Linked DNA regions of Homo sapiens. The protein of the gene in region 1 purifies or fractionates together with the protein of each later gene. This does not show direct contact. Each region holds a gene or a part of one and is shown on either strand. Other genes may lie near its edges.

Evidence for each region. The genes of interacting proteins can lie anywhere in the genome.
Region 2: the proteins of FGFR1 (region 1) and XPNPEP3 purify together in Homo sapiens (affinity purification with mass spectrometry; 2 studies listed by BioGRID and IntAct, with this or other methods). This does not show direct contact.

What each region holds. Positions count from the first base shown.
Region 1 is NC_000008.11:38,461,013-38,466,130, forward strand, and holds part of FGFR1 (fibroblast growth factor receptor 1 isoform 1 precursor), read right to left. Parts: intron 244-5,118; exon of another isoform or gene 95-243; coding exon of another isoform or gene 84-94; intron 1-83. UniProt on the Homo sapiens protein: Tyrosine-protein kinase that acts as a cell-surface receptor for fibroblast growth factors and plays an essential role in the regulation of embryonic development, cell proliferation, differentiation and migration.
Region 2 is NC_000022.11:40,880,454-40,885,571, reverse strand, and holds part of XPNPEP3 (xaa-Pro aminopeptidase 3), read right to left. Parts: intron 3,803-5,118; coding exon 3,395-3,802; intron 1-3,394. UniProt on the Homo sapiens protein: Catalyzes the removal of a penultimate prolyl residue from the N-termini of peptides, such as Leu-Pro-Ala. Also shows low activity towards peptides with Ala or Ser at the P1 position.

The DNA.
Region 1 (5,118 bases):
CCTGCATGCAGAGGTCCTCGGTGGGGAGCAGAGAGGGGGCACATCTCAGTTTCCCACTCATCAGAGGGGGCTGAAATACTTGCCTTGCCTCCATCACAGGTGGTTATGAAGACTGAATGGGCTGCATGGGTGAAAGTGCCTGCTGTCTTCTCACTGGAGTACTGATCCAACATACAGGGTGGACAGTGTCTGGTGAGATAGCAGGGGCTGGACGGACCACGTGACCTTGAAGCTCTCCCACTTCTAAGAGAAAAACCTATGAATGTCAGATCTCCTTGTCCAAAAATTATGTAAGGAAAACTAGCTGACGAATTCATGGCCAAATCTTTTTATTCTTTCTGAGACAGAGTGTTGCTCTGTCACCCAAGCTAGAGTGCAGTGGCACGATCTCAACTCACTACAACCTCCATCCCCCAGACTCAAGTGATCCTCCCACCTCAGCCTCCCGAGAAGCTGGGCTAATTTTCTGTATATTTAATAAAAATGGGGTCTCACCATGTTGCCCATGCTGGTAATGAACTCCTGGGCTCAGGAGATCCACCTACAGTGGCCTCCCAAAGTGCTGGGATTACAGGCATGAGCCACCACACCCAGCCTGGGTCTTTTTATTCTTGTCCGCTGGAGACAGTATGAATTCACACCCTTCCACTTATGATCTTGCCACCCTGGGATAGTCACTTAACCGTTCTAAGCCTCGGTTTCCCACCTAGAGGAAGCCACATCACAGGTGATTATGAGGCTCAAATGGGTGGTGTGGGTGACTGTGCCCATTCTCTCCTCTCTAAAGTACCAACCAAATGTAAAGAATTATGCATTTGGATTTCAGATATAATATTAAGATATTTATAATTCTCTTTGTGTAGTGCTTTGAGTCACTCCTTAATAGCACTCTCAGGAGATTTGGTAATTGGCAGCAGAAGGACAGGAACTTCCAACCTTTCCAAAGGCATTTCTCACTCTCCATCTTCATGTCTTATATTCTAGACCTGTGGCCCACACAGTGGCCACTGCACACTTGAAATGTGGCTGGTGCTAACGGATATGCTATAAGTAAAAAGTATACACCGCATCTTAAAAACTTGTTATGAAAAAAATGTAAAGTATCTCATCAATAATTTCTATATTGATTACATGTTCAAATGATAATATTTTGGAAATATAGTTACATTAAATAAAATCTAAACAAACAAGTTAATTAAAAAACAAATATTGGCCAGGCGCGGTGGCTCACGCCTGTAATCCCAGCACTTTGGGAGGCTGAGGTGGGCAAATCACGAGGTCAAGAGGTCGACACCATCCTGGCCAACATGGTGAAACCCCGTCTCTACTAAAAGTACAAAAATTAGCTGCGTGCAGTGGCGCGCGCCTGTAGTCCCAGCTACTCAGGAGGCTGAGGCAGGAGAATTGCTTGAACCCGGGAGGCAGAGGTTGCAGTGAGCCGAGATTGCGCCACTGCACTCCAGCCTGGCAACAAAGTGAGACTCCGTCTCAAAAAAAAAAATTTTTTTTACCTATTTCTTTCTTTTAACTTAATTTCCAATGTGGCTTCTAGAAAATCTGAACATATACATAACTCATGTTATAATGTTATATTTCTTTCTTCCTTTCTTTTTTTCTTTGAGATGGAGTCTTGCTCTGTCACTCAGGCTGGAGTTGCAGTGGCGCAATCTTGGCTCAACCACCGCCTCCCGGGTTCAAACGATTCTCCTGCCTCCCAAGTAGCTGGGATTACAGACATGAGCCACCAAGCCCGGCTAATTTTTTTATTTTTAGTAGAAATAGGGTTTCACCATGTTGGCCAGGCTGGTCTTGAACTCCTGACCTCAGGTGATCCACCTGCCTTGGCCTCCCAAAGGGCTGGGATTACAGGCATGAGCCACTGTGCCTGGCTTTTTTTTTTTTTTTTTTTTTAAACAGGGTCTTCCTCTGTCCCCCAGGCTGGAATGCAGTGGTGCAATCACAGCTTATTGCAGCCTCTGCCTCCTAGGCTCAAGTGATCCTCCCACCTCAGCCTCCTGAATAGCCGGGACTACCAGTAAGCACGAGCATACTCATCTAATTTGTGTATTTTTTGGTAGACACAGGGTCTCACCATGTTGTCCAGGCTCATCTCCATCTCATGGGCTCAAGCAATCCGCCTGCCTTGGCCTCCCAAAGTGCTGGGATTACAGGCATGAGCCACTGTGACCAGCTGCTCATGTTCTATTTCTATAGGGCGCCACAGCTCGAAGCAACATCCATGCCTCTGTGCAAGACTTTCTTCATGCCATTCCTTGTTCTGCAACAGGCCAGCCCTTCCCTTTTCTCTGAACCCCACCTTAAGAAGCTGTTTCTTCCATAAGACTTTCTTGGGCCTTCTAGCTGGAGAATTTCATTCCTCCAAATTTGCAAACCACATTACTAGCCCCTCTCACATAGCACTTAGGTCATATTATATGATTGTTATTTATGTTCTTCATTCTCTTCTCTCCCCACGAAACTGCAGGCTCCTTCAGAACAGGGTCTGTGCCTCCCTAACCTTTGCTAACACCCTCGGCACCTAGCATGTACACAGGAGATGCCAACATGTTTGTTAACTGGATGAATGAGTAAGTGAATGAAGGAAAAAAAAGGGCTGATGAAAAGAAACTGACAGAGATACTCCTCCAGAAAAAGAGGCTGAGAATATCAGAGAAAAGCAATTAGGTAGTACCCCTTGTTAACCAGCCAAACTCTAGTCCAAAGAACCCTGAGAAAATTTCTGGACAACTTGGTTCTTCAGAATTGAGGAAGTAACACCAAAACATTAATCCCTTCAGATGAGAATAAGACTTATTTCTTCCCCAAAGTGACCATTCTCTACTCACATGTTGAGAGGGCAGGGGGCAAGTACTTAATAAACATATGGAGAAAGTTACTCAGCTCAGCTTGCTAAATTTTAGTTGGTCCAATGGAAATGCTAATTTTTTGAGTCTCTTTAAAAAAAAAAAGTGTCTAAATGTCCTTGGAAGTAAGAGACATATAAAAAATTAGCAATAAGTGGTCAGGCACAATGGCTCACACCTGTAATCCCAGCATTTTGGGAGGCCGAGGCCAGCGGATTGCTTGAGGTCAGGAGTTCAAGCCCAGCCTGGCCAACATGGTGAAACACCATCTCTATTAAAAACACAAAAAATTAGCCGGACATGGTGGCGCATGCTTGCAATCCCAGCTACTAGGGAGGCTGGGGCAGGAGAATCGCTTCAACCGGAAGGCGGAGGTTGCAGTGACCTGAGATAGCGCCACAGCACTCCAGCCTGGGCGACAGAGCGAGACTATCTCAAAAAAAAAAAAAAAAAAAAAAAGCAACAAGTGAAACACGAACTGCTGCACATAATCTAGAAAACCTTGCTCTTGAAGACAGGATGTACTATGAGTGGAACCCCACCAAATTCTTGGGATAGTTCATCCATGTGAGGGCTATTAAATGGGGGAGAGGGCCCTAAACATGGTTTCTTTCATTGCAGGGGAGAGATAAATGGTGGCGAGGAGAGAATTTCTGTTTAAAGTAGATGCAACCTTAGGAGGAAAAACAAATATCCTAGCCCAAGTCTGACATTTCATCCTCTCTGGAAACACCAGAATCTTCTCTAAAGCTCTGCATCTGGGCTCCCACTAGTCCCTGGTGCGTTCAGGCCTTTTACAAAGCTCTGGGGAAGACAAATGTAAGACACAAATTTCCCAGGAGGAAATTAAACTATCAAGTGATGTGAGGCCCTTTCAGAATAAGACATTTGAATCAATTCTAACTCCTTTTCCTCCAGCAGCAACAGGCTCAAACTTTGCTAGGATGTTCTATAACTAACAGCCATTTTGACGAAAGACACTTTAGAAACGAAGGCAAGAAAAAAGCCTTTGTAGAAGCCGGCTGCTAAACCCCCAAGTTCATACCAGCAAATCTCTCATTTTAGGAGTCTTGTTTCAGGTCAATACTGAAAACAAAGAGCACACCACTAAAAGCAAAACCCATGGATTTTCCTTGGTCTCTAAGGCTTGAATCTGCCTACCCAGTGTTCAATTCAATTTTCTTGCCCTCTGGAGTCCACCAGGAATAAAGCTAGCCCAGCCTGAGGGATGCACCGATGTATCTAATCCTCTGCCCCTAGGGAGTGGGGGACGCTTCTCCATTTCTTCCTGAGCCTTTGCTTCCCTTGCTATCAAAGGGCCACCTAATGGAACTGTCTAACACCCTCCATGGCCAGAGGCCAAGGAAAAGAAGCACCCTAAGATTGTTCAAGTGGTGCCCACTCTGGCCTGAATTCCCATTGGGAAAAATACCTCGAAAATGAGCATTTCTGCAGGCATGTTTGGAAAAGCAGGCAGTGAAGTACGCAGTCCAAGTGGCTCTCAATCTGGATGAACCTCATTAAAAAGCTGACACTCAGCTATGACTAAGAGTAAATGCAACAGATATTTCAAGCAGCTCGTCACTGATGCAGTTCATAACCCTCCCAGCTGGAGTCAGGCCCCAGCAGCCTCCCGGTCCCCAAACACCCTGCACTCGGAGGGTCGGGGCAGCCCCGGAGCTTCTCCTAACCCACTGGGGGTAGGATATGTAAACAAGTCATTAGGGAGGCAGGCCATCGGCAAAGACGGCCGGCAATAGCAGAGGCTGCTGAACCTCGGTCACCGAGAGGAAGGTGGATGACCCGGGCGTGGGGGTGATTACCCAGACCAAGGCGCGTCCCACGGGGCCCTGCTACTTCGCTTTTAAACAAGCCTCAGGGAGGAAACCGGGAGCCCGGGCCAAGGGAGGAAAATGGCCACTTTCTGCTAAACAGTCTCAAGGCTAGATAGTATTCCAAAAAAAGCGCTGGTCCGGAGGTGCAAAGGGTAGGGCACATCTGCGGAGGAAACAGTCACCTTAATTACCACGTCTAGAGAAAGTGCGATTTCATTACAGCCTCCAAAACTACCGCCCAAAGAAGGAAACCAGAGAAGTGTTTTCAATTTGAAAGAGGCTGGAAAGAAGCGGGTAAGACACCGACTCTCCCCACCCTCCCGGCAACTTTGGACCACAAGGCGCTTTCCTGCCTCAAAGACTATTACCAAACACAACTCGAAAATCCAACCCCGCTTTCAAACCTGTAGCCGTTATTT
Region 2 (5,118 bases), on another chromosome or scaffold:
CCTTTCACATAATGATCTCAGTACTAGAGGAAAGGGTTCTCCTCCCATTCTGGAGCAATTATTCATTGCTATGGAAAAACTACAGTTGATATTTCCTCACTTCTCCCTTTGCATCTGCTATACATTCTCTTTGTAAACAATCACAGTTCAGCTTTCAACTTTAGAGACCTAAGGAAATGGTCTGTATTTGCCTAAGATATACGATATAAAGGCTCATTATAAAAATGATTTGCACTTAATATCAGATCTACATTTGTTCTTTTTTTCTAACAGTAGGCTACAAACAGTATTCCTAACAATCCAAGTGAGAAGGTCTGAATATTTTATATGACTAAAAAGTACTTTGGGGAAAGTAGAGGGGAAAAAATCCAGAAAACTTTGATTGGATATGCACTGATTCTATGATTCTATGTCCTATGTGATTCTATGTCCTACATATTTTCATTTTTAAAATAAAAATGGTTCTAAATATATACTACATGGGAAACACCTTCCTACTTACGATAGATGGAAATTTAATTGTCGTGTAATTTTTTTTTTTTTTGAGACGTAGTCTTGCTCTGTCACCCAGGCTGGAGTGCAGTGGCGCGATCTCGGCTCACTGCAACCTCCACCTCCCTGGTTCAAGCAATTCCCCTGCCTCAACCTCCCAAGTAGCTGGGATTACAGGCGCATGCCACCACGTCCAGCTAATTTTTTCGTATTTTTAGTAGAGACGGGGTTTCACCATGTTGTCCAGACTGGTCTCGAACTCCTGATCTCAGGCAATCCACCTCCCTTGGCCTCCCGAAGTGCTGGGATTACAGGCGTGAGCCACTGCACCCGGCCAATTGTTGTAATTTTTAAAAAGTAAAACAATCTCTACTACACGTTCAAAGTGTATGAAATCATAGCTCACTTTTTTAAAGGTTTTTAAACCTTTCAATAAATATGATTTTAGCCAGGCACGGTGGCTCACGCCTGTAATCCCAGCACCCTGGGAGGCTGAGGGGGGTGGATCACCTGAGGTCAGGAGTTCGAGACCAGCCTGACTAACATGGTAAAACCTTGTCTCTACTAAAAAAAAACAGAAAAATTCCCCGGGCATGGTGGCGCGTGCCTGTAACCCCAGCTACACGGGAGGCTGAGGCAGGAGAATTACTTGAACCTGGGAGGCAGGAGTTGCAGTGAGCCGAGATGGTGCCATTGCACTCCAGCCTGGGCAAGAGCGAAATTCTGTTTCAAAAAAAAAAAAAAAGGAATGGTGACCGAGAAGTACTTTTGAGAAATTTATTTTACATGAGATTGTAACTATACTGAATTAATAAAACTTAGACAGTAGAACATGACAAGTAGCAACTAATGTAAGAAAAAAGCTAGAAAGAAAATGATTCTATGCCCCACATTTATGTGGATTTTGAAGACATAAGAAAGTTCAATGAATTGAACAGGCTAATTATCTATAAAATGGAAAACATTTCTATAAATAAAAAGAATTTAATCAAATGTATTAGAACTTACATATTCAAATGAGTATTTTCTTCCAAAAGAGGCTTTACAGGAAACAGTCTAATATATTTTATGATTGTGAAAAACATTTTTGGAATTCTCTTTTAGAAGCTAACTTCAGATATGATTTGTAACCCATGTAAGAAAAATCAAACAAAAACTTTATAATTATACATTATCTTGACCTAAAATCAGTATTTTTAAACTTGAGCATCTATCTTATTTTCCAAATAAGATACTTCAAAAAATAAAATACTTCCCAGAGCTAAAGTTTTTTAAGAATTACTAAAGATAGTTTATAATGTGGTGTAGGTTCTGAAAAAATTCCCAGAAGAAAAATCTCAAAACATTCGGATTGATTAAAATTTCACCAGAATAACTGTAGAGAAAGTAATTTCTTTGAGGGACAAGAACTCAACTATGGCCAGGCACGGTGCCTCACACCTGTAATCCCAGCACTTCAGGAGGCTGAGGTGGGAGGCTCACTTGAGGCCAGGAGTTCAAAACCAGCCTAGGCAACAAAGTGAAACTCCATCTCTACAAAAAAATAAAAAAAAATTAGCCAGACATAGTGGTGTGCCCAGGTAGTCCCAGTATTCTGGAGGCTGAGGCAGGAAGACTGCTTGAGCTTTGGGGTTCGAGGTTGCAGTGAGCCATGAGTGTGCCACTATACCTACATCCCAACCTGGGTGACAGAGTGAGACCCTGCCTAAAAAAAAACAAAAAAAGAACTCAACTGTATATGAACCACAAAAGATCTGTTAAAATGCAGATTCTGATTCAGTAGATAGGGGATGGAGGCCTGAGATTTTAATTTCTATTACATATTATGCATTTTTAATTTTAATATGCATTACCAGGTGATTCTGATGCTGTGATGCATGGATCGTTCTTGGAGAACAGTACCTCCTTTTGAAGAGCTGGCAAGAGCACTAAGATAAGAAGTAGTTGTCAAATATCAAGAAGCTGGTCAGTAATCTTGAAGAGTGGTCCATGCCCATCCTGTCCTTAATTTATTTATTTTTTGGAGATGGGGTCTCACTACGTTGTGCAGTCTGGACCTGAACTCCTGGCCTCAAGCGATCCTTCTACCTCAGCCTCTCCAGTAGCTGGACTACAGACGTACACCACTGTGTCTGGCTTATCCTTTGCTTTAAAAGAAAATTCTCTGTGAGATTTCAAACTAGGATAGGTAACAGTCTCCATTAATGAATAATCCAGTGAACATGGAGTTTTTTTTTAATTGAAATGTTCTAAAATTCATTGTGGTGATGGTTGCACAATTCTATGACTATACCAAAAACTCTTAAATTATATACTTTCATTTTATTATTTTTTTTGAGATGGAGTCTTGCTCTGTCGCCTAGGCTGGAGTGCAGTGGCGGGATCTTAGCTCACTGGCTCACTGTAACCTCCTGCAAATGAATAAATGAATCTTTTTTTTTTTTTAAGACAGTCTTGCTTTGTTGCCTAGGCTGGAATGCAGTGGCATGATCTCGGATCACTGCAACCTCCACCTCCCGGGCTCAAGTGATTCTCCTGCCTGAGCCACCTGAGTAGCTGGGATTACAGGCGCCTGCGACCATGCCTGGCTAATTTTTCTATTTTTAGTAGAGACGGGGTTTCGCCATGTTGGCCAGGTTGGTCTTGAACTCCTGGCCACAAGGAACCTGTCTGCCTCGGCCTCCCAAAGTGCTGGGATTACGGGCGTGAGCCAATGCACCAGGCATAAATGAAATCTTTAAAGAAGCTCAATCTTCTGAAAAAGACTTTACATTTCTTTCATGGTGCTCATGGTCTTTTCATGGTGGTGCTACGATAACAAAATTAAGGACTTGTCTAAACAGGCAAGAAAGGTTTTAATCCCAATCTGGTTTGTAATGTGACTTCTGCTCCCATTTGTTACCTTTCATTTTTGGTAGAAGATGTTGAAATTCTTCTAGCGTATAGGCTTCGTCTACTCCAGTTAGAGCTATTGCTCCATCAGTGCCAGATCGCGGACCATCCCAAAGTTCTCGACTGGGATCTCGCCGAGGCACAAAAAGTATGGCTTTGTGTGATGGTAATTGTTTGCCAGGGAGGCTCTGAAGGACAAGAATGCTATCAGGCTCTTGGAATCCACATAGGTACAGGAAATTGTTGTCTTGGTGGAAAGTATAGGGAATATCGTTGCTCATGTAGTATGTAGGGTTGGAGAGCACAACCACTGTCTGGTCTGTCCCACTCTGCCCTTGAGCTTCCTTCTGGATCAGAGACATTAGTTTGTGTCTGCGAAGTGCATATTCCACCTGAGATAGTCCTGGAGTTACCTCCCCTAGAAATGACAAATAAAAGGGATGCTTTACATTTCTGCAGTGCCAAAGTACTTAAGGTAGTTTAATATTAGATGGAAATACTCAAGTCCAATTGTTCAATTTATGCCAAATCTCCTCACAGCACATGGAGAATTAAGGAGATAACCAGGTTTCAAACTTGTATTCCACTGCAAAAATTTGGAAGAAATGATAGTTGAATGTGGCCCCGCCTGAAATCTGGAATCATGGACCCCTTAGATCTCTTCCAGGTCTTTGGCTCATTCTTTTACTCACTCAGTTATATTCATTGAATATAATTTTTTTTTTTTTTTTGAGACAGAGTTTCGCTCTTGTTGCCCAGGCTGGAGTGCAGTGGCATGATCTCGGCTCACTGAAACCTCTGCCTCTCAGGCTCAAGCAATTCTCCCACTTCAGCCTCCCGACTAGCTGAGGTGGTTCACGCCTGAAATCCCAGCACTTTGGGAGGCCAAGGCAGGCAGATCACCTGAGGTCAGGAGTTCAAGACCAGCCCGGCCAACATGGTAAAACCTCATCTCTACTAAAAAAAACACAAAAATTAGCCATGTGTGGTGGTGCATGCCTGTAATCCCAGCTACTCGGGAGCCTGAGGCAGGAGAATCGCTTGAACCTGGGAGGTGGAGGTTGCAGTGAGCCAAGATCCCGCCACTGCACTCCAGTCTACGCGACAAAGCAAGACTCCATCTCAAAATAATAATAATAAAGTATATAATTCAAGAGTTTTTGGTATGTCACATAATTGTGCAACCATCACCACAATGCATTTTAAAACATTTCAATAACAAAAAAAACCTCCATGTTTATGAGCAGTTACTCCCCATTTTCTCACAATCCTCCAGCCCCTGGCAACTCCTAATCTATTATCTGTCTCTATGGATTTGCCTACTGCAGAGATTTTATATAATGAAACTATACAATATAGGGCCTTTGCTGACTTGGCCAATGGTTTTTTTTTTTTTTTTTGAGAGGGAGTCTCGCTATCTCCCAGGCTGAAGTGCAGTGGCGCAATCTTGGCCTGCCTCAGCCTCCCAAAGTGCTGGGGTTACAGGTGTAAGCCATCGTGCCCGGCCCCCTCTTAATTTTAAAAAGGTAACAATTTCACTTCCTTATATACACACACTGTACAGTTGTAGATAAATGTAATACTGAATTATTTCAATAAATGTTTTTCCCTCTTTCCTTCATTGTTTGGCTCCTTATCCCTATTCCCTTCTCCTACTCACATCAACACCTTGCCCAGGTTTGTAATCTAGTATGTATCTTTTCTGAGTTTTCTCAACTCTCACAAAATCATACA